Homo sapiens: one gene and its partners. The protein of the gene in region 1 interacts with the protein of each later gene in a biochemical or structural test. Each region holds a gene or a part of one and is shown in the gene's direction. Other genes may lie near its edges.

The links.
Region 2: the proteins of YES1 (region 1) and INPP5D interact in a surface display test, tested with the Homo sapiens proteins (one large-scale study listed by IntAct).
Region 3: the proteins of YES1 (region 1) and IRS4 interact in a surface display test, tested with the Homo sapiens proteins (one large-scale study listed by IntAct).
Region 4: the proteins of YES1 (region 1) and MAMLD1 interact in a surface display test, tested with the Homo sapiens proteins (one large-scale study listed by IntAct).
Region 5: the proteins of YES1 (region 1) and TENM1 interact in a surface display test, tested with the Homo sapiens proteins (one large-scale study listed by IntAct).
Region 6: the proteins of YES1 (region 1) and DENND2B interact in a surface display test, tested with the Homo sapiens proteins (one large-scale study listed by IntAct).
Region 7: the proteins of YES1 (region 1) and IFT52 interact in a surface display test, tested with the Homo sapiens proteins (one large-scale study listed by IntAct).

The regions. Positions count from the first base shown.
Region 1 is NC_000018.10:720,903-725,826, reverse strand, and holds the end of YES1 (tyrosine-protein kinase Yes), read left to right. Parts: intron 1-1,194; coding exon 1,195-1,403; 3' UTR 1,404-4,239; downstream 4,240-4,924. UniProt on the Homo sapiens protein: Non-receptor protein tyrosine kinase that is involved in the regulation of cell growth and survival, apoptosis, cell-cell adhesion, cytoskeleton remodeling, and differentiation.
Region 2 is NC_000002.12:233,066,472-233,070,740, forward strand, and holds part of INPP5D (phosphatidylinositol 3,4,5-trisphosphate 5-phosphatase 1), read left to right. Parts: intron 1-4,269. UniProt on the Homo sapiens protein: Phosphatidylinositol (PtdIns) phosphatase that specifically hydrolyzes the 5-phosphate of phosphatidylinositol-3,4,5-trisphosphate (PtdIns(3,4,5)P3) to produce PtdIns(3,4)P2, thereby negatively regulating the PI3K (phosphoinositide 3-kinase) pathways.
Region 3 is NC_000023.11:108,733,764-108,738,757, reverse strand, and holds the start of IRS4 (insulin receptor substrate 4), read left to right. Parts: upstream 1-2,194; 5' UTR 2,195-2,413; coding exon 2,414-4,994. UniProt on the Homo sapiens protein: Acts as an interface between multiple growth factor receptors possessing tyrosine kinase activity, such as insulin receptor, IGF1R and FGFR1, and a complex network of intracellular signaling molecules containing SH2 domains.
Region 4 is NC_000023.11:150,471,157-150,475,425, forward strand, and holds part of MAMLD1 (mastermind-like domain-containing protein 1), read left to right. Parts: coding exon 1-334; intron 335-2,523; coding exon 2,524-2,646; intron 2,647-4,269. UniProt on the Homo sapiens protein: Transactivates the HES3 promoter independently of NOTCH proteins. HES3 is a non-canonical NOTCH target gene which lacks binding sites for RBPJ.
Region 5 is NC_000023.11:125,197,595-125,201,863, reverse strand, and holds part of TENM1 (teneurin-1 isoform 1 precursor), read left to right. Parts: intron 1-4,269. UniProt on the Homo sapiens protein: Involved in neural development, regulating the establishment of proper connectivity within the nervous system. May function as a cellular signal transducer.
Region 6 is NC_000011.10:8,709,480-8,713,748, reverse strand, and holds part of DENND2B (DENN domain-containing protein 2B), read left to right. Parts: intron 1-1,013; coding exon 1,014-1,198; intron 1,199-2,517; coding exon 2,518-2,627; intron 2,628-2,791; exon of another isoform or gene 2,792-2,834; coding exon 2,835-2,904; intron 2,905-4,269.
Region 7 is NC_000020.11:43,642,775-43,645,974, forward strand, and holds part of IFT52 (intraflagellar transport protein 52 homolog), read left to right. Parts: intron 1-3,200. UniProt on the Homo sapiens protein: Involved in ciliogenesis as part of a complex involved in intraflagellar transport (IFT), the bi-directional movement of particles required for the assembly, maintenance and functioning of primary cilia. Required for the anterograde transport of IFT88.

The DNA.
Region 1 (4,924 bases):
CTGCAACCTCCGCCTCCCGTTCAAGTGATTCTCCCACCTCAGCTTCCCAAGTAGCTGGGATTACAGGCACCTGCCATCATGCCTGGCTCATTTTTGTAGTTTGTAGAGTCGTGGTTTCACCATGTTGGCAAGGCTGGTCTTGAACTCCTGACCTCAGATGATCACCCGCCTTGGCCTCCCAAAGCGCCAGGATTACAGACGAGAGCCACTGTGCCCGGCCAGATTTCACTTATGAAGATGACAGTACCTAGTTAGATGAAAAGCTCAGAAAACTTCCTTTTAAGTATTGAGTTTCAAAGTAATGTCATGTAGAGTTTTTTTTAATAGTTTAAAAAATGTATTTTGAGAAATCACTTATTCCTCAAAAAAATAACTAAAAATCTAAATAGTAATGATTTAACCCCATTACATTTTCTTTAGAGAATCATAGACTATTTTAAATATCATTCCTGATTGGTTGATAAAGTTTCCAAGAGATACAAGGGATGGCCTGACTTGCAGGCAGGGAAGGAAGGTGATGCGGGAGATAGGACGTGAGGTGAGGTTGCTGGCTTAGTGAGACACTATCAGGAAGAATTTGGAAAAGGAGGCATTTTGCTGTCCTGTGATAAGATGGGGTGAACTGCTGATCAGGGGGTTGAGGAAGGGGGGATTACAAAGGAATACAAGAAAGGAACTATGTGTAATATCTTGAAGAAAGTCAAACAGGTAATATTAGATAAGGAAACTTTCACAGAAGTAATTCAATATAAAGTTATGTAGTTGGTATATTTGGCAAAACCAAGACTAGAACTTTCTTCTGAATTCCTGTTTTAAAGTTCTTTCAGACAGGATCTTGCCACCATTCCTCAGTAACCCAAGTTTGGTCATTGTTAAATGTTAATATTAGAAAGTACCAGTACCTCATAGTAGCACCCTAAATTCTTATTAATCAAATGGGGTTGGCTTTTGAAGACATTAGTATTAAAAATAAGATATAAGATGGAATGAAAAATTAGACATGTTAAAACATAGATTAGCATTTTCTAAGCTCTTCTTGATATTCTCATGTTTAAAATTTATTTTGTTGCTTTGTTAAAAGAATTGTTTCACTAAATAATATACTTTGAATGAGTTAGTGGCTAGGGGGTTTGTTATGTTTTCCTAGTGGTAGTTAGGACCATTGTTCTTTAATGTTTTAATCTTGTGTATTAGGTATGGTGAACCGTGAAGTATTAGAACAAGTGGAGCGAGGATACAGGATGCCGTGCCCTCAGGGCTGTCCAGAATCCCTCCATGAATTGATGAATCTGTGTTGGAAGAAGGACCCTGATGAAAGACCAACATTTGAATATATTCAGTCCTTCTTGGAAGACTACTTCACTGCTACAGAGCCACAGTACCAGCCAGGAGAAAATTTATAATTCAAGTAGCCTATTTTATATGCACAAATCTGCCAAAATATAAAGAACTTGTGTAGATTTTCTACAGGAATCAAAAGAAGAAAATCTTCTTTACTCTGCATGTTTTTAATGGTAAACTGGAATCCCAGATATGGTTGCACAAAACCACTTTTTTTTCCCCAAGTATTAAACTCTAATGTACCAATGATGAATTTATCAGCGTATTTCAGGGTCCAAACAAAATAGAGCTAAGATACTGATGACAGTGTGGGTGACAGCATGGTAATGAAGGACAGTGAGGCTCCTGCTTATTTATAAATCATTTCCTTTCTTTTTTTCCCCAAAGTCAGAATTGCTCAAAGAAAATTATTTATTGTTACAGATAAAACTTGAGAGATAAAAAGCTATACCATAATAAAATCTAAAATTAAGGAATATCATGGGACCAAATAATTCCATTCCAGTTTTTTAAAGTTTCTTGCATTTATTATTCTCAAAAGTTTTTTCTAAGTTAAACAGTCAGTATGCAATCTTAATATATGCTTTCTTTTGCATGGACATGGGCCAGGTTTTTCAAAAGGAATATAAACAGGATCTCAAACTTGATTAAATGTTAGACCACAGAAGTGGAATTTGAAAGTATAATGCAGTACATTAATATTCATGTTCATGGAACTGAAAGAATAAGAACTTTTTCACTTCAGTCCTTTTCTGAAGAGTTTGACTTAGAATAATGAAGGTAACTAGAAAGTGAGTTAATCTTGTATGAGGTTGCATTGATTTTTTAAGGCAATATATAATTGAAACTACTGTCCAATCAAAGGGGAAATGTTTTGATCTTTAGATAGCATGCAAAGTAAGACCCAGCATTTTAAAAGCCCTTTTTAAAAACTAGACTTCGTACTGTGAGTATTGCTTATATGTCCTTATGGGGATGGGTGCCACAAATAGAAAATATGACCAGATCAGGGACTTGAATGCACTTTTGCTCATGGTGAATATAGATGAACAGAGAGGAAAATGTATTTAAAAGAAATACGAGAAAAGAAAGTGAAAGTTTTACAAGTTAGAGGGATGGAAGGTAATGTTTAATGTTGATGTCATGGAGTGACAGAATGGCTTTGCTGGCACTCAGAGCTCCTCACTTAGCTATATTCTGAGACTTTGAAGAGTTATAAAGTATAACTATAAAACTAATTTTTCTTACACACTAAATGGGTATTTGTTCAAAATAATGAAGTTATGGCTTCACATTCATTGCAGTGGGATATGGTTTTTATGTAAAACATTTTTAGAACTCCAGTTTTCAAATCATGTTTGAATCTACATTCACTTTTTTTTGTTTTCTTTTTTGAGACGGAGTCTCGCTCTGTCGCCCAGGCTGGAGTGCAGTGGCGCGATCTCGGCTCACTGCAAGCTCTGCCTCCCAGGTTCACACCATTCTCCTGCCTCAGCCTCCCGAGTAGCTGGGACTACAGGTGCCCACCACCACGCCTGGCTAGTTTTTTGTATTTTTAGTAGAGACGCAGTTTCACCGTGTTAGCCAGGATAGTCTCGATCTCCTGACCTTGTGATCTGCCCGCCTCGGCCTCCCAAAGTGCTGGGATTACAGGCGTGAGCCACCGCGCCCAGCCTACATTCACTTCTAAAGTCTATGTAATGGTGGTCATTTTTTCCCTTTTAGAATACATTAAATGGTTGATTTGGGGAGGAAAACTTATTCTGAATATTAACGGTGGTGAAAAGGGGACAGTTTTTACCCTAAAGTGCAAAAGTGAAACATACAAAATAAGACTAATTTTTAAGAGTAACTCAGTAATTTCAAAATACAGATTTGAATAGCAGCATTAGTGGTTTGAGTGTCTAGCAAAGGAAAAATTGATGAATAAAATGAAGGTCTGGTGTATATGTTTTAAAATACTCTCATATAGTCACACTTTAAATTAAGCCTTATATTAGGCCCCTCTATTTTCAGGATATAATTCTTAACTATCATTATTTACCTGATTTTAATCATCAGATTCGAAATTCTGTGCCATGGCATATATGTTCAAATTCAAACCATTTTTAAAATGTGAAGATGGACTTCATGCAAGTTGGCAGTGGTTCTGGTACTAAAAATTGTGGTTGTTTTTTCTGTTTACGTAACCTGCTTAGTATTGACACTCTCTACCAAGAGGGTCTTCCTAAGAAGAGTGCTGTCATTATTTCCTCTTATCAACAACTTGTGACATGAGATTTTTTAAGGGCTTTATGTGAACTATGATATTGTAATTTTTCTAAGCATATTCAAAAGGGTGACAAAATTACGTTTATGTACTAAATCTAATCAGGAAAGTAAGGCAGGAAAAGTTGATGGTATTCATTAGGTTTTAACTGAATGGAGCAGTTCCTTATATAATAACAATTGTATAGTAGGGATAAAACACTAACTTAATGTGTATTCATTTTAAATTGTTCTGTATTTTTAAATTGCCAAGAAAAACAACTTTGTAAATTTGGAGATATTTTCCAACAGCTTTTCGTCTTCAGTGTCTTAATGTGGAAGTTAACCCTTACCAAAAAAGGAAGTTGGCAAAAACAGCCTTCTAGCACACTTTTTTAAATGAATAATGGTAGCCTAAACTTAATATTTTTATAAAGTATTGTAATATTGTTTTGTGGATAATTGAAATAAAAAGTTCTCATTGAATGCACCTATTAATCGTTTTAGTTGCTATTCATATTCTCATTCGTTTTTTAAAAACTGATATATTCTGAATTTATTCTTCCATTGAGAAAAAAATGTTCAGTTACTTGTAACTACTGAGCAGAATTTAATCAATCCTTTATTAAATTCAGAACATTATTGAACTCATTCTTTGTGGTCAATTTTCTTTTTTTTTTGTTTTGTTTTGTTTTTTTTTTGAGACGGAGTCTCGCTCTGTCGCCCAGGCTGGAGTGCAGTGGCGCGATCTTGGCTCACTGCAAGCTCCGCCTCCCGGGGTCACGCCATTCTCCTGCCTCGGCCACCCGAGTAGCTGGGACTACAGGCGCCTGCTACCACGCCCGGCTAATTTTTTGTATTTTTTAGTAGAGACGGGGTTTCACCATGTTAGCCAGGATGGTCTCGATCTCCTGACCTCGTGATCCGTCCGCTTCGGCCTCCCAAAGTGCTGGGATTACAGGCGTGAGCCACCGCGCCCGGCCTGTGGTCAATTTTCTATGTCAAGTGAGTGACATTATTTTTACAAGTATTTTCTTCTTCTTAAAATTATACCAGCAAATACAGTTAATGCAGAAACCTAAGTAATTTGAGTGTAGCTATTCACAATCTATGTGAAGAATATAAAATAGAATGACCAGTTTTATTATAAATTAAGGGGCTTAATTTTCTAAAAAAGAAAAAAAATGAGCCTTATCTCTGTGTTTTATAATTATTATATAGGATAATGAAAATAAAATTGTCTAATACTAAATTTTGAATGGTCATTCAAAAGCATTTATTTTCAATAAGTTAATTACAAAATTATTAGCTTTTTCTCTGATTTCTAAAACACTTC
Region 2 (4,269 bases), on another chromosome or scaffold:
TAACCTTCCTGTGTCAACCCAGCATCTTCACAGGTGGAATGAGGATGACAAGGCCAAAGCCCACTCGTTGGGTTATTTTTTCAAATTGAGGTATAATTCATATTCCATACAGTCACCCTTTCTATGGTGTACAATTCTTAATTTTCTTTTTTTCCAAGACAGTCTTGCTCTGTTGCCCAGGCTGGAGTGCAGTGGCATGATCTCGGCGCACTGCAACCTCTGTCTCCCGGGTTGAAGTGATTCTCCTGCCTCAGGCTCCTGAGTAGCTGGGATTACAGGCGCATGCCACCATGCCCGGCTAATTTTTTTTTTTCTTTTTGAGACAGAGTCTCATCTCACCCCTGTTGCCCAGGCTGGAATGCAATGGTGTGTTCTTGGCTCACTGTAACCTCCGCTTCCTGAATTCAAGCAATCCTCTGCCTCAGCTTCCCAAATAGCTGGGATTACAGGTGCCTCCCATCACACCCAGCTAATTTTTGTATTTTTAGTAGAGACGAGGTTTCACCATGTTGGCTAGGCTGGTCCCGAACTCCTGACCTCAGGTGATCTGCCCGCCTAGGCCTCCCAAAGTGCTGGGATTACAGGCGTGAGCCACTGCACCTGGCCCTGGTATACAATTCTTTATCGTGCTTTTAGTGCATTCACAATGTTGTGAAACCAACACCACTGTCTGATTCCAGGACATTCTCAATACCTCGAAAAGAAAAGAAACCCTGTACCCACAGCAGTCACTCCCTATTCCCTCTCCACCCAAACCCTGGCAGCAACTAAATGACTTTTTGTCTATGGATTTATCTTTTCCGGATGTTTCATAACTGGAAACATACAACATGTGGACTTTGGGGCCAGCTTCTTTCACTGAGCACAATGCTGTCAAGCTTCATCTGTGTTGTGGCATGAATCACTCCTCTCCAGGGCTGACTAATGAGCCACTGTATTGAAAGAACCACATTTTGTTTATCCATTCATCAGTTGACAGGCATTTGGGTTGTTTCCACTTTTGGGCTATAATGAATAATGCTGTGATGAACATTCATATACAAGGTTTTGTGCAAACATATATTTTCAATATTCTTGGGTCTATATCTAGGAGCAGAATTGCTGGGTCATTTAAGTCTAACACTTTGAGGAACAGCTAAACTGTTTTCCTTGGTGGATCCACCATTTTGCATTCCTACTAGCAACATCTGAGGGTTCCAATGTCTCCACTTCCCTACCAGCACTTGTTATTATCTTTTTTATTATAGCCATCCTAGTGGGTGTGAAGTGATGTCTTATTGTGGTTTTAATTTGCATTTCTCTAATGGCTAATGATGCCAAACGTCTTTTCTCATGGTTAATGGCCATTTGTATTTGGAGAAAAGTCAATTCAGATCCTTTGTACATTTAGAAAACAGGGTTGTTTGTCTTTTCCTTGTTTCCTTGGGTTATCAAGAGGACAAAATGGAAAGATGTGAGTGACATTTACAGCCCAAGTCCAGGCATGTGGTAAGCACCCACCGAATGCTTTGCACACATAAAAATCATGCTGGTGCTGGGCAAGGTGGCTCATGCCTGTAATCCCAGCACTTTGGGAGGCCGAGGTGGGTGGATCACCTGAGGTCGGGAGTTCAAGACCAGCATGACCAACATGGAGAAACCCCATCTTTACTAAAAATACAAAATTAGCCTGCGATGGTGGCATATGCCTGTAATCCCAGCTACTCGAGAGGCTGAGGCAGCAGAATTGCTTGAACTTGGGAGGCAGAGGTTGTGGTGAGCCGAGATGGCACCCTTGCACTCCAGCCTGGGCAACAAGAGTGAAACTCTGTCTCAAAAAAAAAAAAAAAAATCATGCTGGTGATCAGGTGTGGTGGCTCACACCTGTAATCCCAGTACTTTGGGAGGCTGAGGCAAGAGGATCATGAGGTCAGGAGTTTGAGACCAGCCTGGCCAACACAGTGAAACCCTGTCTCTACTAAAAATACGAAAAATTTAGCTGGGCATGGTGGCGGGTGCCTGTAATCCCAGCTACTTGGGAGGCTGAGGCAGGAGAATTGCTTGAACCCAGGAGGTGGAGGTTGCAGTGAGCCGAGATCGTGCCATTGCACTCCAGCCTGGGCGACAGAGCTAGAATCCGTCTAAAAAAAAAAATCGTGCTGGCAATTAGTCTTTATGAGCTAAAAGTGACTAGTGACATCTCAGAAGCAGAGGAGTACAGGACCCATCTGTGAAGAACATTCCATACAGAGGAGAGAAGAGAATGGGGGCAGAGGATTGCTTAGGAAACTTCCTGGAGGCCTCTGGGGGATGCTGAGTTGTCACTTGAGGCCTCCTTGGAGGAAGCACTCAGAGAGATGGAAGCAGGAAGAGGACTGAGTGATGCCCCTGTGACGGAGGCTGCTGGGGACAGGGCTGGGAGCCTGGAAGCCAGCAGGAGGAAGGGATGGGGGCACAGAGGCACACAGAGTGAAACCAGGGGCAATGAACATGACATCAGGAAGAAAGGCAGGCATCTGAAGACCACTGGGCTCCAATTGAGGGGGTGGGTGCAGAGGGTACTGAAGTCCTGGGGCTGAGGACGATGGAAGGAGCACAGCATGTTCCATGACGGGGGTACTCAGGCTTGACAGGTGCGGCAGCACGTGGGGACCAGATTCTCTCCCCTGCTCACTTCAGGCTCCTGTTGTCCCCTTTCATTAGGAAAACACGATATTAACAAGTGCAGGCCCCTAACAGTTTGGGTTCAATACTTACTGTAAACAACCCCACGGAGGGCTGTCCCCGAGAGATCATTTGGGACCTCCCCGGAGCAGAGAGGCTTGCTGGACCACACAGCTGTCAGTGGCAATGGAGAAACAAATAGATCTGATAAACAGCAATGTCCTGTTCTTTAGAGTCACTTTAAAAAATGGTATTTATACAAAGCACAGAAAGTACAAAGCAAAAAGCAGAAAAGTAACCACCCCATCACTGAGACACTAGAATAACCATTGTTAATTCACTGGTGTATCTTCTTCTTCTCTCTACCTCCCTGTATGTATGTAATTTCCATTTTGTATATACATGTATTACATGTATATGTATAATTTTAGTCTGAGATTTCTAGCAGCATTAGCATTTTCCCATTTAGTTAGAATTTCTTCCTAAATATCATATTTTAATTTTAGTCTGAGATTTCTAGCAGCATTAGCATTTTCCCATTTAGTTAGGTTTTCTTCCTAATGATCATATTTAATGGATGTACAGGATTCTATTACATGATGTGCGACACTTCATGAAATGATTCTTCTATTATCAGATATTTAAGTTATCAACAGCATTTTGTTGTTATAAATATGACTGATGAAGGTCTTTTGCAGAAATGTTATAAACATGTCTGGTTATAGATTCCGAGGAGTGGAATTACTAGATCGAGGGACAGGAATGTTTTTAAGGCTCTTGATACAGAATGATACATTGCTTTCCAGAAATTTTTTTCCATATATGCACCAGTAAGCTGTACAAGAGAGTGCCCGCCTCATTCTAACCTTCCTATTCTGAATATTTTCATTTCAAAACACAATACATTGCAAGGTGAAGGTGGTGAATGTTCATTTTGATTTGCATTTGATTGTGGTCACGTTGAGCTTATTTGATAGAGTTATTGACCCTCATAATCCCTCTTTCGTGAATGGTCTGTTCAATTCTCTTTGCCATTTTTCTATCGAAGCTATAGTTTTTCTGTTATCTACTTGCACAAGTTTATATCACACTTGTTGCAAATATTTTCATTGTGATTTTCCTTTAAGTTTTATGATTTTTTTTTGACATTCAGGGACTGTAAATTTTTATATAGTGAAGTCTCTCAGTCTTTTCCTTTTTTCTCCCTTCGCTTTTCAATGCAGAGAATCCCTCTGCACACAGAAATTCACTTGTTTCTTCTTGTACAAGGCAGGTGGGTTATGACAGAGACTTTGGAGCTAATAGACTTGGGCTAAGGATTCAGCAGGTTTTTTTTTTTTTTTCGAGATGGTGTCTCTGTCTGTCACCCAGGCTGGAGTGCAATGGTGTGATCTTGGCTCACTGCAAACTTCTGCCTCCCCAGTTCAAGTGATTCTTCTGCCTCAGTCTCCCGAGTAGCTGGGATTACAGGCTCCCGCCACCATGCCCAGCTAATTTTTGTATTTTTTAGTAGAGACGGGGTCTCACCATATTGGCCAGGCTGCTTTCAAACTCCTGACCTTGTGGTCCGCTCGCCTCGGCCTCCCAAAGTGCTGGGATTACAGGCGTGAGCCACCGCGCCCGGCC
Region 3 (4,994 bases), on another chromosome or scaffold:
TCCCATTTCATTTAATATTCATTTTGATATTTTCAATGTCATGTTATTACTCAAAGCACTTTCAAATATGTTGCCTTATTTGTCACATTTCTCTTTAAAAAAAAAAAGAAAAAAACCTTGTGCTTGGAAAGACTTATAAAATATCCTAATGACTATCAAACAAAATCCCAAATGAGAGCATTTGTTATCATTTTGGTTGTAAGTGCAGGGAATCTTGTATATATGTGACTACGCAGCTGAAATATGTAGCAGTCACAGTCAGGGATCTCTCAGCATCCACACTCGTTCTGCCTCTAGCTCCCTTCCGAAACCACGGCTGCTTCCAGCACCTGTGAATATATTGCACTTATAAACCATTGGCAGCAGAGGGAATGTTATTGAATATTTGTAATATCTGGGGGACAACCCAAACCAATTTCTTTTTCTCTTAAATTATAGCATCAAAAAGGAGCCATTTATTCAAATACGTGTGTTCTGTTTCTAACAGAGCAAATTCTTAAGAGGGCAGAAATATGGTTTATTTTTATGATATACATATTGCCTAGTTTACTGTTGGATTTTATAAATAGTACCCTTTGCCATATCAACCCTAGAGCAAGGGTGAACTGACATTCCATTCTTTCAGAGAGAAATGCTGTATTTCTCTCCTCCTCTCCCTCCATTCCTCTTTGCAAACCTGGTCACTCCTTTGATAATTCACGACCCATCTCCACCATTAAGAGTCTAAAATCCTAGTCAAGTAATAACTGGGGTGGTGGGGGAGAGAGGGAGAGGGAGAGGGAAAGGGAGAAGGAGAGGGAGAGAGAGAGAGAGACTTGAGGAGGTTGCACTTACACTCCGGCAGTTTTTCCAGAAATGAGGGAGGCAGTAGTTCTTACTTTTGTGATGTCAACTTGTAGACTGAAATGCATCAAAGCTCCTCTTCTTCTTCTTGTTGACGCGAGGGATGTGAAATGTGCTCTAGAATATGCATTCAGCGTGGTCCTTTGTTCTAGGTATGAGCTTTTCTTTTTCTAAAGTTTTTCGGTCTCGCTCAAGGAAAGGAAAGCAATATTTTGAGATTCTTTTAAAGGCACCTTCCAAAGCATTTCCCACAGAAAAATACCTTCACAGCCCAACACTGGTTATTTCAGTAAGAATCGAGTCCAATTTTTTCCAATATGGCTGTATACATTGCAGGCCCCCAAATTTGTGCTTTCATAGTCATCGTTAATCAAATAGGCAGAAACACTGTATTTAGGGAACCTGTGTTTCGTGGGCTAGAAGTGCATTCTGATTAATAAAGATCATGTTCATTTTGAATGCATCGCTGTTATTCGTGTGCCTCAGAGTCGCGGGCTTCTGTCAGGGGTGCAGCGGGCTCGGGAGTGCCTGCAGAGCGGTGGGAAGCAGTTCTGAGCGCCCTGGTCGTCAACCCGTTTTCAGGGGGTGCCGACACTTTCTCCCAAGAAGCTCGATCCGCCGCCTTGTGCGGCTGGAAAGAATGAACCAGACTGTGACAGGAACAGAGAATTTATGTGATTGACAGGGAGTACCAGGGCACCCGACTCCATCCCGGGTCACCACGGCTCTGGGATTTGCACGAGTTTACCACCACCATTAACAGCTATTTGCGTAAGGTTGTTTACCGCCTGAGAGCGCCACAAGCCGACAGCGAAGCCACTTTGGGACCCCAGCCACGCCCCCTCTCCCCTCTCCCCTCTCACCCCTCCCTCCCGCCAAACTAATGATTTCGGGGCTGCCTTCTTGCCGGACCCTCCCATTGGCTCCTATCCCAACCAATCAGAGCCTTGCAACAGTTTCACCTGGCTCCCGCTTCCCAAATAAACAAACAAACTGTCCCGCGACTGTGCCCGCTCTGCACCCTGGCGCCGCAGGCAGGCACTGCTTGCGCTACGCCCCCTCCCACCACCTCCCACCAATGGGGCCCCGACTGTGGCGCCCTCTCCCGACCCTGATAGCCGGCCGCTTTCTCCTCCGCCCCTCCAGGCCTTCTCCCGCCCCCTCATGCCTTCCTGGACTCCCTGTTAGAATCAGCTTGGCCAGAGAGCCCGCCTCCTCCTCTCGGTCCTCCCTTGGCCCACAGGCCTGGAGATTGACCGGGAGGATTTGGCACAGCCGGAGGTGGCTCCGCCTCCCGAGCCCGCCGTCTCCTCCCTTGCTCACCTCTACTGGTGGCCGCTCGCGCCCCTCCATTGCGCCGGTAGCAGGATCCGCAGCGGCCGCCGCGTGAGGCTGTGGTCACGTGTTGTTTTGCCCGCTGTCGTGCGCTCAGAGTGGAGTGGGCGGGGGCGCGGGCCAAGGCAGGAGGGGGCTGGGGCGGGCAGACGAGGGTAGACAGCCTCTTCCCCCAACCCTCCCTTTCCTGAATTCCCCCTCCTCCTCGCTCACCTTAAAACCATCGTGCATCACCATGGCGAGTTGCTCCTTCACTCGCGACCAAGCGACAAGAAGACTAAGAGGTGCAGCAGCGGCGGCAGCGGCAGCTCTAGCAGCAGTGGTGACCACCCCGCTTCTTTCCTCGGGAACCCCGACCGCACTCATTGGGACCGGGTCGTCTTGTCCGGGAGCCATGTGGCTCTCCACGGCCACTGGCTCCCGGTCAGACTCCGAGTCCGAAGAGGAGGACCTGCCCGTCGGGGAGGAAGTCTGCAAACGCGGCTACCTGCGGAAACAGAAGCATGGGCACAGGCGCTACTTCGTGCTCAAACTCGAGACTGCTGACGCCCCAGCTCGGCTGGAATACTACGAAAATGCCAGGAAGTTCCGGCACAGTGTCCGCGCCGCGGCGGCTGCAGCAGCGGCGGCCGCCTCTGGCGCCGCGATCCCCCCGCTCATTCCACCGCGGCGCGTGATCACCCTATACCAGTGCTTTTCCGTGAGCCAGCGAGCAGATGCAAGGTACCGACACCTCATTGCTCTTTTCACCCAAGACGAATACTTCGCGATGGTGGCCGAGAACGAGTCGGAGCAGGAAAGCTGGTACTTGCTGCTCAGCCGCCTCATCCTCGAGAGCAAGCGCCGCCGCTGCGGCACGCTCGGCGCGCAGCCGGACGGAGAGCCGGCCGCGCTGGCGGCGGCAGCGGCGGCGGAGCCACCCTTCTATAAAGATGTGTGGCAGGTAATAGTCAAACCCAGGGGGCTGGGGCACAGAAAAGAGCTGAGCGGCGTGTTCCGGCTGTGTCTAACCGACGAGGAGGTCGTGTTTGTGAGGCTGAACACCGAAGTGGCCAGCGTGGTCGTCCAGCTCCTGAGCATCCGTCGCTGTGGACACTCGGAGCAGTATTTCTTCTTGGAAGTAGGCAGGTCCACTGTCATCGGTCCGGGAGAGCTCTGGATGCAGGTCGATGACTGTGTGGTTGCCCAAAACATGCATGAGCTGTTTTTGGAGAAGATGAGAGCCTTGTGTGCAGACGAATACAGAGCCCGCTGCCGCAGCTACAGCATCAGCATCGGCGCCCACCTGTTAACCCTGCTGTCCGCTAGGAGGCACCTGGGCTTGGTGCCGCTCGAGCCGGGAGGCTGGCTCAGAAGGTCCCGCTTTGAGCAGTTTTGCCACCTCAGGGCCATCGGCGACGGGGAAGACGAGATGCTTTTCACCAGGCGCTTCGTAACACCCAGCGAGCCTGTGGCCCACTCCAGGCGAGGAAGACTGCACCTGCCCAGAGGGCGCAGGTCAAGGAGAGCGGTTTCAGTGCCGGCCAGCTTTTTTCGCCGCTTAGCACCCAGCCCAGCACGTCCCCGGCACCCTGCAGAAGCCCCGAACAATGGAGCTCGCCTGTCTTCTGAAGTGTCTGGTTCTGGCTCTGGCAACTTTGGGGAGGAAGGCAATCCCCAGGGCAAAGAAGATCAGGAAGGAAGCGGAGGTGACTACATGCCTATGAACAATTGGGGCTCAGGAAATGGCCGGGGCTCAGGAGGTGGCCAGGGCTCAAATGGCCAAGGCTCCAGTAGCCATAGCTCGGGAGGAAACCAGTGTTCAGGCGAGGGACAGGGATCCCGAGGTGGTCAGGGCTCAAATGGCCAGGGCTCAGGAGGAAACCAGTGCTCTAGAGATGGCCAGGGCACCGCAGGTGGGCACGGTTCAGGTGGTGGCCAGAGACCTGGAGGTGGGCATGGCTCAGGTGGTGGCCAGGGACCTGGAGATGGCCATGGCTCAGGTGGTGGCAAGAACTCTGGGGGGGGCAAAGGCTCAGGAAGTGGGAAAGGATCCGATGGTGATGGTGAACGTGGAAAATCTCTGAAGAAAAGATCCTATTTTGGCAAATTAACTCAAAGCAAGCAACAGCAAATGCCACCACCTCCACCACCTCCTCCTCCACCCCCACCAGCTGGAGGAACTGGTGGAAAAGGGAAGTCTGGGGGAAGATTCAGACTTTATTTTTGTGTTGACAGAGGAGCCACGAAAGAATGCAAAGAAGCCAAAGAAGTGAAAGATGCAGAGATCCCAGAAGGTGCAGCTCGAGGTCCCCACAGAGCCAGAGCTTTTGATGAAGATGAGGATGACCCATACGTGCCAATGAGGCCAGGGGTGGCCACCCCTCTTGTAAGCTCCAGTGATTATATGCCAATGGCTCCTCAAAATGTCTCTGCTTCAAAAAAGCGCCACTCTCGATCCCCTTTTGAAGATTCAAGAGGGTACATGATGATGTTTCCCAGAGTGAGCCCACCACCTGCTCCGAGTCCTCCAAAAGCACCTGATACTAATAAAGAGGATGACTCAAAGGACAATGACAGTGAGAGTGACTACATGTTTATGGCTCCTGGAGCCGGTGCAATTCCAAAAAACCCCAGAAATCCTCAGGGTGGCTCTTCCTCCAAAAGTTGGAGCTCCTACTTCTCTCTACCAAACCCTTTTCGGAGCTCACCTTTGGGACAGAATGACAACAGTGAGTATGTGCCAATGTTACCTGGAAAGTTCCTGGGGAGGGGCCTAGACAAAGAAGTCTCCTATAACTGGGACCCCAAAGATGCAGCTTCAAAGCCTTCAGGTG
Region 4 (4,269 bases), on another chromosome or scaffold:
CTCCAGCCCAGGAGCCACGGAGCCATTTACTTTTGGCAACACCAAGCCCTTGTCCCATTTTGTTTCTGAGCCGGGTCCCCAGAAGATGCCCTCCATGCCTACCACCTCTAGGCAGCCTTCCCTGCTCCACTACCTGCAGCAGCCGACACCAACGCAGGCCTCCTCAGCCACTGCCTCCTCCACGGCCACTGCCACCTTGCAGCTGCAGCAGCAGCAGCAGCAACAGCAGCAGCAGCCTGACCATTCTTCATTCCTTCTGCAGCAGATGATGCAGCAACCCCAGCGTTTTCAGCGATCAGTGGCCTCAGATTCCATGCCTGCTCTGCCCAGACAGGTAAGACAATCTCATATCTGGCTGTGTTCTTTTGTTTTGGAAGTAACAACTGTGTTTCATGTTGCCAATATCTGGCTCTGGAGGGTAAATCCAGGCTATAGTTCTCTCTGAGACTGGAAAAGACTCTGAAAAAGTCTACTGAAGTCAGCTAATCCTGTGTGGTTAAAAGCACAGTGTTAATAAGGCCAAGGTTATGGTTTCAGTGCCTGTTCAAGTCACCTAACTTCCCTAGAAGGAGAGCTGCACCCACAAGGTGCTCCCGGTGGAAGGAGCCAGGTGGGACAAGTCCGAATACAGAAATGCCTTCCCTGCACTGGGCCATGTAGAAAGACTAGTGAATCCTTCTTAAGATGTAAGGAAATTGCACTGAAGCATTTAATCTTATCCCTGCTGGCAGAAGGACAAACACTGAGCCTTCTAGAAATGCCACAGCAAACTTTTGCTGAGCAACCTCAGCATGCCATTTGTCACTGTGCTGGATACTCAGTCAGGTCGTGAAAGGAAAAAGACAGGTATTTGCAAGGTAGTCACTCTCATCATCTCCATTTTACAAATGAAGAAACTGAGGCTCAGAGAGTTGAAAGACTTGCCCAGAGTCACATAGTTCGCAAGGGACAGAGCAGGAACTTGAAGCCAGGTGGTCTCACTCCAGAGCCTGTGCTCTTCTTGAAATTACTTTTGACTTCTCACCCTCCCTCATCTCCTCCAGGCTTTTCAATCATGAAATGCAGCTGATTCCACCTGGGTCGTGTCTATCACAGTTCCCAGTTTTCATTTCTGTGACCCCTGCCTGTATTAGTTATCTGTGGCTGCATAACAAATTACCCCAAGCACCAGCTTCGAACCATATGCATACGTTACCACCACATCCTGATTTCTGGGTGTTAGGAATCCTGGCATGGTTTAACTGAGTCTTCTGGCTGAGTATCTCCTAAGGCTGCAGTCATCTCAAGGCTCAGTGGGGAAGGATCTGCTTCCAAGCCCACTCATGTGGTTGCTGGCAGGAAGCAGTTCCTTGCAGGTTGTTGGACTGAGGCCTCGGTTTCTCATGAGCTATTGGCCAGAGGCCTCCCTCAGTTCCTTGCCACACGGTCTCTTCACAGAGCATCTCACAACATGGCAGCTGGCTTCATCTGAGTGAGCATGAGAGAGTGTGCCAGTGAAGCAGGGTAATGGGGAGAGAGGGAGGAGGGATAGTGCCAGCAAGTCAGAAGTCACAGTCTCTATGACCTGGTCTAGAAAGTAACATCCCACCACTTTTGCTGTATTCTATTCATGAGATGTAAGCCAGAGGAGATTGCATGAGGGTGTAAATACCAGGAGGCAGGGTTCAGTGGGGCCAGGTCACACATGTGCCTACACAGAATACTCAGTCACCATCTACCATCCCTCCTTCCCATTCCTCTCATCCTTGCCCAAGTTCAGGTCCTCTTGATTCTTTATCTGAACTCATACAGTTGACCCTTAACTGGTCTCTCCCAATAAACCATCCATTGCTCTGAGTCGTCTTGCTAAAACAGTGACCTGATCATGTTTTACACTTGCTCAGAAGTCCCCAGAGGCCCATAAGCTGGCCCCACCAGCCTCCTGGGCCCTTCAGCATCCATCAGGCCCTGCCTTGCACTTTGTTTCTATTACCCAGAAGTGCCTGCAGCACTTGGCCCACGCCATCTGGTCTCAGCCTTTACTCTGGCCGTTCCCTGGGCCTGGTCATCCCTTCCCACATTTTCTCTCCTGTCCAACACCTGCAGCTACTTAGGGCTCAGGCACCATCCCTCCAGGAAGCTTTTCCATGACTGTCCTCAGTACTTCCATTTCCCACTGTGCCTCCCTCTTCTGGAGAGTGGTCAAGGAGGAGATTATAAAGTGCTTGGCCAGAGACCTGGCCCAAGGGAAGCACCTGTCAAGGGCTGACCTCTTATTTAAGAGCTCTGTATGAGCACACCTGTGGCAACCCCTAGAGTACAGAGGTTGTGTCTTTTCCATCCAGGTTTCCTGGAGCATAACCATGCAGAGTGCTTGACACCAGGGAGTTGGTCGTTTGATAGACCATGCGGCAAGCAGAGCTCCCATGGGGGTGGCCGGGGGAGCGGTGTGGAGATAGGCAAAGCACATAGGACACGGCAGGCCACCTGGGGCTCGGGCCCTGGTCTGCAGTTCAGGAGCACTTTGGTTTGATTTTATTATAGGGCTGTTGCCATCTGTTTGCATGGACTTCTGCAGCTAGCTCGGTGAAGCCCCAGCATCAACACGGGAACTCTTTCACTAGCAGGCAAGATCCTCAGCCTGGAGACGTGTCACCGTCTAACATTGTGAGCCTTTCTGTTTTGTTTTGTCTTCAATTGGGTACATTTTTGTAGACTGATTGTGTTGTCCCAGAGCTGGATCAGCTGGCTCAGAGGGAGAATTCTTAATTATTGGGGTCATGCAAATCATACCCAACCAATTACCTAGGTGGGGTTGGAGAAAGTGTTCAGGAGAAAGACCGAACAGTCAAGCTCCCTGGGGCTAGGAGCACAATAAAGGGGGCAAGCGACTTTTGCCAGCAGAGGCAAGAAGCTGGGTCCCCAAATTGGAAATGCTATTGCCACCAAGAGCTGCCTTTCCAGCCCATGCTGGCCTGTGCCCAGGGGCCAGGCATGGGACCTGGTGCTTCACCTGCCTCTTCTCATTTTAATCCTCAGAGGCAGGGGCTGTTACCATTCTCCTGAGAGTTGGGGGGAAAGGCACAGAGAAGTGACCGAAGTTGCCCACAGTCACACAGCAAGCTGGGGCCAGAGCAGACAATCTGGCTACAGAGCCCACACTCATACTCCCATGCATGGGGCACTGCCTCTGTAGCCTTCTGTTTCCACTGTCACCTCTTAACTGTTTCCTCCTCTACAAATCAAGGTGATGATAGGTTGTCTGAGGACTAAGTGTGTTAATACATCTAAAGCACTTTGAACAGGGCCTGGCATAAAGTATGTGCTGACAAGGGATTTGCTGTCACGATGACTCTACCTCCTGACCCTGTGCTCCCAGATCTGTTTCATGGGACTAAGATGTGGTTCTAAAAACCAGTAGCTGTGGCAGGACAGACACAAGCCACGCTATCTCCAGACCCTGTACCCACCATGAGATTGATAGGAGTTGTGCAGCCTCTGAGCCTTGTGGGCTCCTTTTGCTCTAGGCCCTGCCTCTCCTGGACAACTCCCAGCCTGATGGGAAAGGGGAAAGGGGAAAGGTCCATCCCTGCTTTGCAGACTGGGGATCTCACTTTGCTCTTTCTTGAGCTCTCCGGCACTCTCACTCCGCTCCTCTCCCTAGCACTCTGTTCTCTACCTGGTATTCTTCCAGGCCTCCAAGCTGGGGGAATCTCAACAGTCCTTCTGTTTCTTCTTATGGCCTCTCCCTATTAACTCTAAGACCTAAGAACTCAGCCCTGGTCATTCTTCCAGGGGAGAGAAAAAAATAAAGAAAAAAGCGAGTGTTTGAGGCAAGAGCTGGGACCGCTGTAGAAGGACAGATGGTGGCCCCAATGGTGGGGAAGAACATATTTCCCACTTCCAGCAGGCTAAGCAAACCTCCCAAGTTTTACTGATGGCCAAGCTGAGCCTCAGGAACACTAATTACCTATGATATGGCATTTACTAGCCTGTTACATTTGCCGTGGACGATAATGGTTACCATGGAAAAACTGGACATTCATTTGAATCTGGATCTTTGAGGTTTTGTGCGGGGGGTGGGGGCTTTTTTGGTTTTTGTCTGTTCATTTCTTTAGAGGCAGGGTCTCACTATATTGCCCAGTCTGGTCTCAAACTCCTGGGCTCAAGTGATCCTCCCACCTCAGCCTCCCAAAGCACTGAGATTACAGGCAGGAACCACCGCACCTGGTCTAGATCTTAGTTTTCTAAAGGAGTTATTTTTAAATGTGAGATGAGACACAAACGCTT
Region 5 (4,269 bases), on another chromosome or scaffold:
TTCAAGTTCATAACACTATTTTGTGATGCATTAAATAATTTACTATGGCAAAGTTGGGGTTTTTAAGAGTAATTAAAAGCTTTCAGGTATGACAAAATAATGTTGAAAACTTTTCATGATTAAAGAAAGTCGAAATATGCATTTAAAAAGGGATCAGGTAATTCCTAAAATAAATCCATGCTCTAAATATTATTTAAAAGTTTTCAGGTTGTTCCCCAGAATGTTTCTGAAAAACAGGTGTTTCTATAAAACAACTCTATGAAGAAATGTTAACATTTTCATAATAAAACTAGTAGAGTCCAGTCCTGAGAACAATGTCAGCTATACATAGCAGAAAAAAACCCCACAAATATTTTTGCATACATGAAGTAGTATTTTCCATTAGGTTTAGGTTCCAATTATGAATTAGGGACAGTCATGTCATTTGACAAAATATACAGTGAGGCTAAAGGAAAGAATGCTTTGTAGAATCATTGTGCTGTAAAGGTGATTAAGATTTCAAATATTCAAACGTTTAGGTGTATTAAAATAAAATTGTATTATACATAACTATCATCACATTCAAAGGCCTAATTCAGTCTGAATACCCTAGAATTCTCAGTGTTTCAATTCAGCTATTATATGTGTAAATAACACCGACATAATCATAGTTTCCCTCATAGTCATTGATCCTTTCTGATACCTTTACCAGAAAGATTCTTGCTGAAGCAGAACAGTCTAGCATTCAAGTTTATTCTATACAATATTACTTTAAATTGTCAAACTGCAAAACATTCCTGATATGTTGTTTCTGAAAACAGAAAACTTAGTGGAAATTTATTTTCTGTGACAGCCTTAAAAACTTGGAAGTAGTAAGAAATTTTAGTGTTAATTAATAAAACAAACATTTTTCATATTCTATGTTAGAGATAGACATTTGGAGTCCATATAATTTTTGCTTGAAGCTTGCTTTTCCTAAGTCATTCAGTTTCAGATTTAAGTAAAGCTATCAAGTAGTTGGTATAGATTATGGTTAATAAATTCCCTAAAGTTTCCCAAAACAAGTTAATTATTATTATTTATGCATTTATTTATTTACTTACTTATAAATGACCAGAGGTCAAAAGAAGACCAGTACTTTGAATAACTGAGTCAGTGATTAATTTTTTTGATGAAAACAAATTTTCTTATAGTACTCATATTTGTTCTCTCTCTCTCTCTCTCTCTCTCACACACACACACACACACACACACGGAAGCAATTGCTTGTGAATGCCTTGAATCAGATATAAAACATGTACAATAGCTTTATTAAAATTATATATATTTGTTAAATTGCTGTGGATTTTAACCACAAAATTAATAATCCATGCGTACTTAAAAAGCTTCCCATCACTTAACATTTAGAAGAAAGGTTTAAACTGGATTCCTAGTATGACTACAGGCAGATGAAAAATATTGTAAGGTACAGAATTTAGCAATTGTGACCAACAGCATATACCCACGACTGGAAGTGTAACTGCTGATTATAAAAATTAAAAGGAATCAAATTTCAGAAATGCTCACATATACCACAATTTCTTTAAATCTTCTACAGCTTCTGAGTGTTAGATTAAATCACTACTTTGAATGGAGATTGCTATTATTTTTCCTTCCCCTAAAAGGTAAAAATATTCTGAATCCTGGCTTAATATATTATTTTTATTCCTTTCTGTTTTCCATTGATTTTTTTTAGAACAGAGGAAAGTAAATATCAAATATAACCAGCTAGAACCATGCTTAGTTTGAGCAGGTGAATGCTATAAAAGGCTTCACACAGCTTTTAATTATTCTTAACAACCTTGATGACCAACCATAGGTGTCTGTTCAGTATTCGGTGCTCTGTTATGGCAATTTATATAATGTATAGAGATTTTGTAGTTTGCTAGACGTGCTGTGGTACAATTTAGCAAGACCAGCAAAATTGCTTACATTTGGAACCCATGAAAAATAGGGCTGAGGAAATTGGAATATGATGGCATAGACTGAAAATTATTATATAACAATATTTATATCAATTGCAATGCTAACATTTCTGTATAGAAATTAAGCTAATTTAAATTTGAAAAGTAAATATTTTTACAGGTGACATGGATCCCTAATATTTTAAAATAGTAACTTAGAGTCTAATAAATGAAGTCTATTAGATTTTTATGTAACTTCAGGACCCATTTCAAGGCCTGGAAGTATAATCTTGGATAATTTACAACTTAAAAAATTATTCTAAATTGTACTTCCTGTCCGAGCCTCCACTTTAGGTAAACAATAGCATATGGTGAAACATGCATATATGCCAACTAACCACTACCTCTTGGATGATGTTTTTAATGTGATGTAATGATTCTGAAATATTGGATTCTCCACCCCCGCTCTATTCTAACTGTAAGAGTGGAGAAGCTAATTGGAAAATGGACACATAAAAACATGTTAAAAATCTCTTTTCACATGGGTGGATAATCCCCTATGAAGTTCTTACCTGGGAGCCTTTATATTTCTGTTTATGGTAGATATGTGCCAAGGTTAATACTTTTTCTCTGGGTGCTTATGACAAATTTCTATGACTGAATCTAGGTGACACCCAAATATGTGACTGCACCATTCTGTTAACCATCCAACTGTTTGGGGTGAAAAACATCTGGTTGTTTGAGAAAATTGTTTACCTAGTTTCTGGGTGTTTTGGAGTCACTTAACAGGCCGATGACCCTTAATATCCATGTCAAAAGAGAAAGAAAAAATAAAATAAAACACTTTAAAATACATGTAAAATATCTTAAACACTCTTGGGTTACTATAAAATGCCCAATGAACTAAATGCCATCGTGAATCTACAGCCTTCTATAAAATGTATAAGGAGATGTTGCTTGCATTCTACAACAATTACAGAAACAGAAACACACTGACCTTTTCAGCAAGGCAGGAAATTAAAAACTTTAAATTCAATTCTACACCCTACTCCCCCTTCCCTGCCCCCACCCCTGCCCACTGTACTGATTCATCAGCTTAAAGAAATTGACTTAAGGGGCTTGATACAGTGGCTTCTTAAAATTTCCTGTACCTCATTTTCCACTGATTGTGCTACTGCCATGGAAACTAGATGGGACAGACAGCTGGGAGTCACTAATTCAGAATGGGAATCTGCTTGTTAATTTAATTTCATGCCAGCCTGTTGGTCCCTGAAAGTAACTGCTGTAAAAGGCTGGGGAATTGAATTTGCTAGAAATAAATGATTAAGCTGAACGAAAAATCAGTGCCATCTCTGTCATTTTCCTGAAAATCTTCCTACAACCCTCTTTGTCCCTACTCAAGCAATTTTTAAAAAATAATCACAGAAAGAGAAGTTTGATTTGTGCATTCCTATTGGTATGTATGTATTCTATGGAGCATTTTTTGTTCTAATAGAACATTCACAGCTGTAAAATAGTTTCATAATAGCTATTACATTGAAAAAATATGTTCTTTCAAATTATGATTTTGTAGACTTTGAAGAAGCCTAGTTAGTGATGATAGGAAAACATAATATAAATGATGCTTGAATTTTCCAGTAGAATTGGTTATTTTTCCTTTTCAAATAAAAAAAGTCTTATTACAATATCTATGTCCCACTTTTATTACAGAGACCAAATGCATTTGAATACATTTATTTGAAATTTGTAAAACAGTCATTTTACCAGTCACCAGAAAGCATACTGGTTGTTTTAATTTTATTCGACTAAGTTGTAAATTAATAAGTAGTCAACAATGAGGAAATTGCCTTTTAATGTTTCTCATATTCTGTTGTAATGTTTTTGTGGCTGATTATGAGTTATGAAATTAAATTTTGGAATCACAATCTCTATGATGAGCTGAATTGCAATCCATGTCAAGTCTTTTGCAATACCGGCTAAAGTCCTGAGAAACTAATATTACTTTTCTGTCAATTTGTAGCTGTAAGCAAATTTCTGTATTACGACTGAGAGAAGATCTTTGATAATGAAACAAAGAATGGAAAGATAAATATATGTAAAGGTCAGAAGGTATTTTTCTGTTTTAAAGTTAATAAAATTTCAAAATATATATGTTCAAGGTAGAACTATTAATGATAGAATGAAGCAGTTATTCAAAAGTTTAGGAAAATTAATATCCACATTTTTACAGTTTAGGGAATACTGAGAATATCAGTATCCAGTTGTTGAGTGTTGAATTACGTGTATTTTATTCTTTGGTGTATTTTTTGTTACTTGGACTATATCTGTGTGATACTAAAATCTGACT
Region 6 (4,269 bases), on another chromosome or scaffold:
CCAAACTGTCCCAAGCCATTGTCCATGGGAGTTGGGTGCTAGATTTGCCTGGTAAATGTTGTAGATCTCAGCCGGGCGCGGTGGCTCATGCCTGTAATCCCAGCACTTTGGGAGGCCAAGGCGGGCAGATCACGAGGTCAGGAGTTCGAGACCAGCCTGGCTAAGATGGTGAAACCCCATCTCTACTAAAATAATACAAAAATTAGCCAGGCACGGTGGCGGGCGCGTGTAATACCAGCTACTTGGGAGGCTGAGGCAGGAGAATCACTTGAACCCGGGAGGCGGAGGTTGTAGTGAGCTGAGATCATGCCACTGCACTCTAGCCTGGGCGACAGAGCAAGACTCTGTCTCAAAAAAAAAATTGTAGATCTGGAGGGTCAGAGAGGGGTACAGAAGATTACAAGGACCTCTTCTGGCAAGAAATGTGCCGTAGACTGAGGAAACTGTTTCTCTGGAGGCCCTGCAGTCCCCCATCTCCCCTGTCCCCAGAGAGGAGCTTGAAAAGGTTCTGGAACCTTCACATTCCAGGGTCCTTGGATAAATCTTTGTGCTTTCTCTACTGGGAAACCCTGCCTAGGCCTTCCTGGATGATTATCCTCTCATCCCCAGGCAAATGGGCAAGTGGACTTTGGATGTAGGAGCATGTCCTGCTAGGGGCCCAAGGATGAAGCCTTCGTGGATGTTCGTGTATTCTAGTCCTTTTGGTACAGGGACAGAGTGGGTGCCAAGATACATCCCTGGGTTTGCCTGGCCTCGGCAGTCCTCCTGCCCCAGCTCAGTCTCCAGAGGCTCCAGGAGGACCAGGCCCGCAGCTTCCTGTGTCAGGGCAGAGTCTTTGTGCAGGGGTCAGCACCTTGTGCCTGCCGGTCCTCCTGCACTGTGAGCTGGGGATGGTATCAGACTAGGCTCACGTACTTAAAAGTGCTCCACAGCAATGGAGCCCTGAGCCAGGGGTAGAGGAGTTAACATGAGGCCTGTGAGGGTCCATTCCCTGATGTGCAACCTGCCTCCAGCCCACACACAGCGCCTGGTCCACATCCAGTCGATGCTGAAGCGCGCCCCCAGCTATCGCACGCTGGAGCTGGAGCTGCTGGAGTGGCAGGAGCGGGAGCTTTTTGAGTACTTTGTGGTGGTGTCCCTCAAGAAGAAGCCATCGCGAAACACCTACCTCCCCGAAGTCTCCTACCAGTTTCCCAAGGTGAGGCCTTCTCTCTCCCCACCTTGCCCATATTCCCCCTCTTCCATCCTCTATCCGCCAGGCCTATCTGGGGAAGGAGAGAGATCTTGTTCGTCATACGTCCTCACCGAGCTGCCACAGCCCTGAACCTGCCTCCTCTCAGCCAGGAGGGAAGACAGGGCTGCAGCGGGGGTGGGTTTGGGCCAGTGCTTGTTCAAAGGATGAGGACTAAGAAAGAACCTCTCAATGTGCTTATAATAAAATCCAGAACAATTGAATACCATACAGTTCACCCACTTAATGTATACAGTTCAGTGTTTGGGTGTATTCACAGAATTGTGCAATCATCACCACAGTCAATTTTAGAACATTTTTATCACCCCAAAGAGAAACTCTGCACCCACTAGCTGTCACTCCGCACTTCTCCCACCAGCCTGTCTCTCACTCCGCCTTCCCTGCTTGTCGCCAGCCAGCCTGGCCTCCCTCTTCTTCCTCTCACACTCAACCCCTCTCTCTCTGCCATTGCCTCTGCCAGGAATGTGCTTTCTCCAGCTCTTCACGTGGCTGCTGGCTCCTTCTCATTTCTCAGGCTCTGCTCAAGTAGGACCTCTTTCAGGAGGTCTGTCCAGACACCTGCATGGAGCCCCTCCCCTGCCCAGCTTGCTCTGGTACATAACCCTGCTTATTATTTTATTTTTTTATTCGAGACGGAGTTTCGCTCTTGTTACAGAGGCTGGAGTGCAATGGCGCTATCTCGGCTCACTGCAACCTCCGCCTCCTGGGTTCAAGCGATTCTCCTGCCTCAGCCTCCCAAGTAGCTGGGATTACAGGCATGCGCCACCACTCCTGGCTAATTTTGTATTTTTAGTAGCGATGGGGTTTCTCCATGTTGGTCAGGCTGGTCTCGAACTCCCAACCTCAGGTGATCCGCCAGTCTCGGCCTCCCAAAGCGCTGGGATTAACAGGCATGAACCACCGCGCCCGGCCACCCTGCTTATTTTTTTTTTAAGCCCCGCTCTGAGATGTTGTGGTTGACCATCTCACTCTGCTGACGAGAATGTGTAAGGTCGGGGACCTTGTCCCCTTTGTTTTCCATTGAGAGCCAAGAGCCCTGGCGCATAGCACCGTGTCAGATGCCATATAGAAAGCACTCCGCTGGCATTTATTGAATGAATGAATGATGACTCTGGGCTCTGTAAGAATTCGGAGTGGGACAAGGGTTGCTGAGATCATGCCCGCTAGTCAGTGGCATCTAGGGCCCTCAGGGGAGGAGGGGCTTCTCAGCCACCACCACCCGCCCTCAGGTTCCATGTCATCTCCTGGTTCCTTCTTCCCTGCAGCTGGACCGACCCACCAAGCAGATGCGAGAGGCAGAGGAAAGGCTCAAAGCCATTCCCCAGTTTTGCTTCCCTGATGCCAAGGACTGGCTTCCTGTGTCAGAGTATAGCAGGTGAGGCCTGGCCTGGCCTGAGGGAGGAAGGAGCATAGCCTTCTTTACCCCCATAGCGTGGGCACCTGAGTGGGGCCTGCTCTAGTCTCATCCTCTCCTACAGCAACCTGGCCCTTCACCCCACGTGAAAATGACGGTCCCTATTCTTGGGGGCTGTTTCCTAGGTCCTCTCACACCTCCCTGATGCCAGACCTCTCTTTGTTCCAGTGAGACCTTTTCTTTCATGCTGACTGGGGAAGATGGCAGCAGACGCTTTGGCTACTGCAGGCGCTTACTGGTGAGTGAGGCCATTCGGTCCTCAGGCCAGCAGGCAGGGGATAGGCCAGGGTGTGTGTGTGTGTGTGTGTGTGTGTGTGTGTGTGTGTGTGCCCTTCTGCAATTTTAGCTTGTATGAAATCCTATGTTATGCTTCCTGAGGCCACCCCGAACCCCCTGCCAACACACACACTTTCACAGGTGAGGCTACCCTGGGAGAGCAGGGCTCAGAGTGGTGCTTCTGAGGGGGCCTTAGGATCGGAGGTTATCTGGAGTAAGGGGAGGGAGTGGGTTTTCATGTCTTTTTAGTTTTTCTCTACTTTTTCGTCATTTCCCTTGGGATCATGGGCTCTGATTGCTGGTCTCTGGTTGCAGGATCGAATCGCCCCCAGCAGTATGTGTATATGCATCAGATTAGGTGAGGGACAACCTTCCTCACCCCCATACCTGGCCAGCCTGTAGTGGGGAGGAGGCCTTTCTGTGGTGTGGTGGGGCTGGAGATTGGGCAGGGACAGAGACATACCTTCTCTGGGAATCTGAGAGAGATACCTTGAATCTAGGGGAAAGGGATTAGGTTTTGAAAATGTTAGCCATTTTGTAAAGAGAAGTCCCTCACCATTTCCCTTCCCATTAGTCCTGGGAAATAGATTGGGTAGAGGCTCAGAGCCTGGCCCCTGCTGCACTCCCAGCTTGGAGCTACTGGGTTGTTGACAATGTTTTGGGGTTTCCAGGCCTTAGCAAGAGAAAGCCTCCCCAGATACCAGTCTAGGGGTAGATGAAGGGGGCAGGAGCCCTGAAGGAAGGATTTGGGGCCGGCCATTCATTCATTCAGAAACACTTATCATCCCTTATCAGAAGCCCTGACCTATTGAGAGTCAGGCACGTGCTATTGAGAGTCAGGCACGTGCTCATATAAAGATGAGTTTAACATGGATCTCCCTCTCGAGGAACTTTAGATGGCCTGTTACAGGAGATTGGACTTTCAACACAGGAGGGAAGGGCCAAGGGAATAAGAGGGAATAAATGTTGTTTAGAACCTGTCACATTCCAAGCTAGATGCTTCAAGTATGTCTTTTAAAAGAAAATGATCACAATAGCCCATGGGTTATTATTATCCCTGATCCATAGATTGGAAAGTCAAAACTCAGAGGTAGAATGACTTGCCCAAGGTCATACAGAACCAGAAGGGAAGTCGTTTGTCACCAATTTGTACTCTTGGATCACCCCCAGAGGATGGACTGGGGAGAGGGGGCGTGGGGAGGTAGAATGCCCATGGAGGGGCAAAGGGCGTATGCACAGGAGTGATGCCAGGTGGTGAGCCAGGCAGAGGCCAGCATGCCTCTGGCCGCCTGGGCCTCCCAGGCTTGGAAGGAGTGTTGCGAAGGCT
Region 7 (3,200 bases), on another chromosome or scaffold:
ACTTATGGAACCTATATACTAGCTGGAGGATGTAGACAATAAGCAGTAAACATAAGTGAGTCACATAGGATGCTAGAAAATGGTAAGTGCTTTGGTATAAAAGAAGTGGAGGCTGGGCGCAGTGGCTCACGCCTGTAATCCCAACACTTTGGGAGGCTGAGGTAGGCAGATCACCCGAGGTCAGGAGTTCGAGACCAGCCTGACCAACATGGTGAAACCCCCTCTCCACTAAAAATACAAAAATTAGCCGGGCATCATGGTGCGTGCCTGTAATCCCAGCCACTCAGGAGGCTGAGGCAGATGAATCACTTGAACCCAGAAGGCAGAGGTTGTGGTGAGCTGAGATCGTGCCGTTGCACTCCAGCCTGGGCAACAGTGAGACTCTGTCTCAAAAAAAAACAAAAAAACAAAACAAAACAAAAAAAAAACAGCTGGGTGTGGTGGCTCACACCTGTAATCCCAGCACTTTGGGAGGCCGAGGCAGGTGGTTCAGCTGAGGTCAGGAGTTTGAGACCAGCCTGGCGAACATGGTGAAACTCCATCTCTACTAAAAATATAAAAATTAACCAGGTGTGGTGGTGCACGCCTGTAATCCCAGCTACTAGGGAGGCCGAGGCAGGGGAATCTCTTGAACCCAGGAGGCGGAGGTTGCAGTGAGCCAAGATGGCACCACTGTACTCCAGCCTGGGTAAGAGAGTGAGACTCTGTCTCAAAAAAAAAACAAAAAAATAGAGCTGGGTAAGAGGGATCAAGTGTGCTGAGTGTGGCCATGATGACTGGTGAGTATTAAATAGGGAGATCAGGGTGGGTTTCATTGCAAAGTTGTATTGGAGCAAAGATTTGAAGGTGTTGAGAGACTTAGCCATGCAGATATCTGGGGGAGGAGTGTCCCAGGCAGAGGGGAGATGTGTGCAAAGTTCCTAAGGCTGGGCTGTGCCTGGTATGCTTGACGAACGGCAGTGATGCCAGTGTGACAAGAGAACAGAGGAAAGGACAGAGCAGTAGAACATGAGGTGATCACCTTATGTAAGAAATGATTTTCTCAGGCCGGGCACCGTGGCCCACACCTGTAATCCCAGCAATTGGGAGCCCAAGGCGGGCAGATCACAAAGTCAAGAGATTGAGACCATCCTGGCCAACATGGTGAAACCCCATCTCTACTAAAAATACAAAAATTAGCTGGGCGTGGTGGTGCATGCCTGTAGTCCCAGCTCCCATACTCGGGAGGCTGAGACAGGAGAATTGCTTGAACCTGGGAGGCGGAGGTTACAGTAAGCCAAGACCACACCACTGCAGTCCATCCAGCCTGGCGACAGAGCAAGACTCTGTCTCAAAAAAAAAAGAAAAAGAAATCATCTTTCTCTGACTGAGGACCAAGAACTTCAAAATTATCCCTGGCCTTCTTTTTTCCAAGGATTTCAAAAATTGAATGCCCAACCAGCTTTGGTAAATAGGCATTCATACACTACTGATGGAGAATAAGTTGGTTCCACTTGTCTGGAGATATTTTTATAATACTGTTGAAAAGCCCTAAAATGTATATACCGTTGACCCATTCTAATCTTCAGAATTTGTTTTAATAATATAATTCGGAATACGTACAGATTTATCAACCAGGATTCTCAGTGCCACATTATTTTATAGAAGAAAAATCTTCATCAATAGGGAACTGGTTAAGTATCCTAGGGTACATCCATAAGATAAAAAATGTTTTTAAAAATGTTTGGCCAGGAATGGTGGCTCACGCCTGTAATCCCAGCACTTTGGGAGGCTGAGGCGGGTGGATCACGAGGTCAGGAGTTCAAGACTAGCCTGACCAACATGGTGAACCCTCCTCTCTACTAAAAATACAAAAATTAGCCAGGTGTGGTGGCGTGCACCTGTAGTCCCTGCTACTCAGGAGGCTGAGGCAGGAGAATTGCTTGAACCCGGGAGACAGAGGTTGGCAGTGAGCCAAGAACGTGCCATTGCACTCCAGCCTGGGAGACAGAGTGAGACTCTATCTCAAAAAAATAAATAAAAAATAAAAATAAAAATGTTTAAGGACTTGGGCCAGGCGCTGTGGCTCACATCTGTAATCCCAACACTTTGGGAGGCTGAGGTGGGCGGATCACTTGAGGTCAGGAATTCGAGACCAGCCTGGCCAACATGGTGAAACCCCATCTCTACTAAAAATAAAAAAATCAGCTGGGTGTGGTGGCCCGTGCCTGTAGTCCCAGTTACTCAGGAGGCTGAGGCAAGAGATTCGCTTGAACCTGGGAGGCGGAGGTTGCAGTGAGCCAAGATTGCACCACTGTACTCCAACCTGGGCAACAGAGTAAGACTCAAAAAAAAAAAAGTTTAAGGACTTGGGAATACATTCGTGATACAGTAAATATGTGGTGGGGAGAGACTAAAGAACAGTATATAGAGAGATTCTACTTTCTTTACAGAATACAATACACACATAGAATTATTTTGCATAATAAAAAAATAACATAAAGATATTTATCCTTGGGGCCCAGTGCGGTGGCTCACGCCTGTAATTAATCCCAGCACTTTGGGAGGCCAAGGCAGGTGGATCACGAGGTCAGGAGATCGAGACCATACTGGCTAACACAGTGAAACCCCGTCTCTACTAAAAATACAAAAAATTAGCCGGCCGTGTTGGCGGGTGCCCATAGTCCCAGCTACTCAGGAGGCTGAGGCAGGAGAATGGTGTGAACCCGGGAGGCAGAGCTTGCAGTGAGCTGAGATCATGCCACTGCACTCCAGCCTGGGTGACAGAGTAAGACTCTGTCCCCCCCAAAAAAAGAAGATATTTATCCTTGGGCTGGGCACAGTGGCTCACGCTTGCAATCCCAGCACTTTGGGGGGCCAAGGTAGGTGAATCATTTAAGCCCAGGAGTTCTAGTCCAGCCTGGGCAACAGAAACTCCACATCCATAAAAAAATACAAAAATTAGCCAGGTGTGGTGGTGTGCACCTGTAGTCCCAGCTACTTGGGAGGCTGAGGTGGGAGGATCATCTGAGCCTGGGGAGGTTGAGGTTGCAGTGAGCAGTGATCATGCCACTGCACTCCATCCAGGGTGATAGAGTGAGACCCTGTTTAAAAAAAAAAAAAAAAGATAGTGTTTAATTTTTATTTTCCTTCTTTATTAAAATTTCTATAGTGGGCCGGGCGCGGTGGCTCACGCCTGTAATCCCAGCACTTTGGGAGGC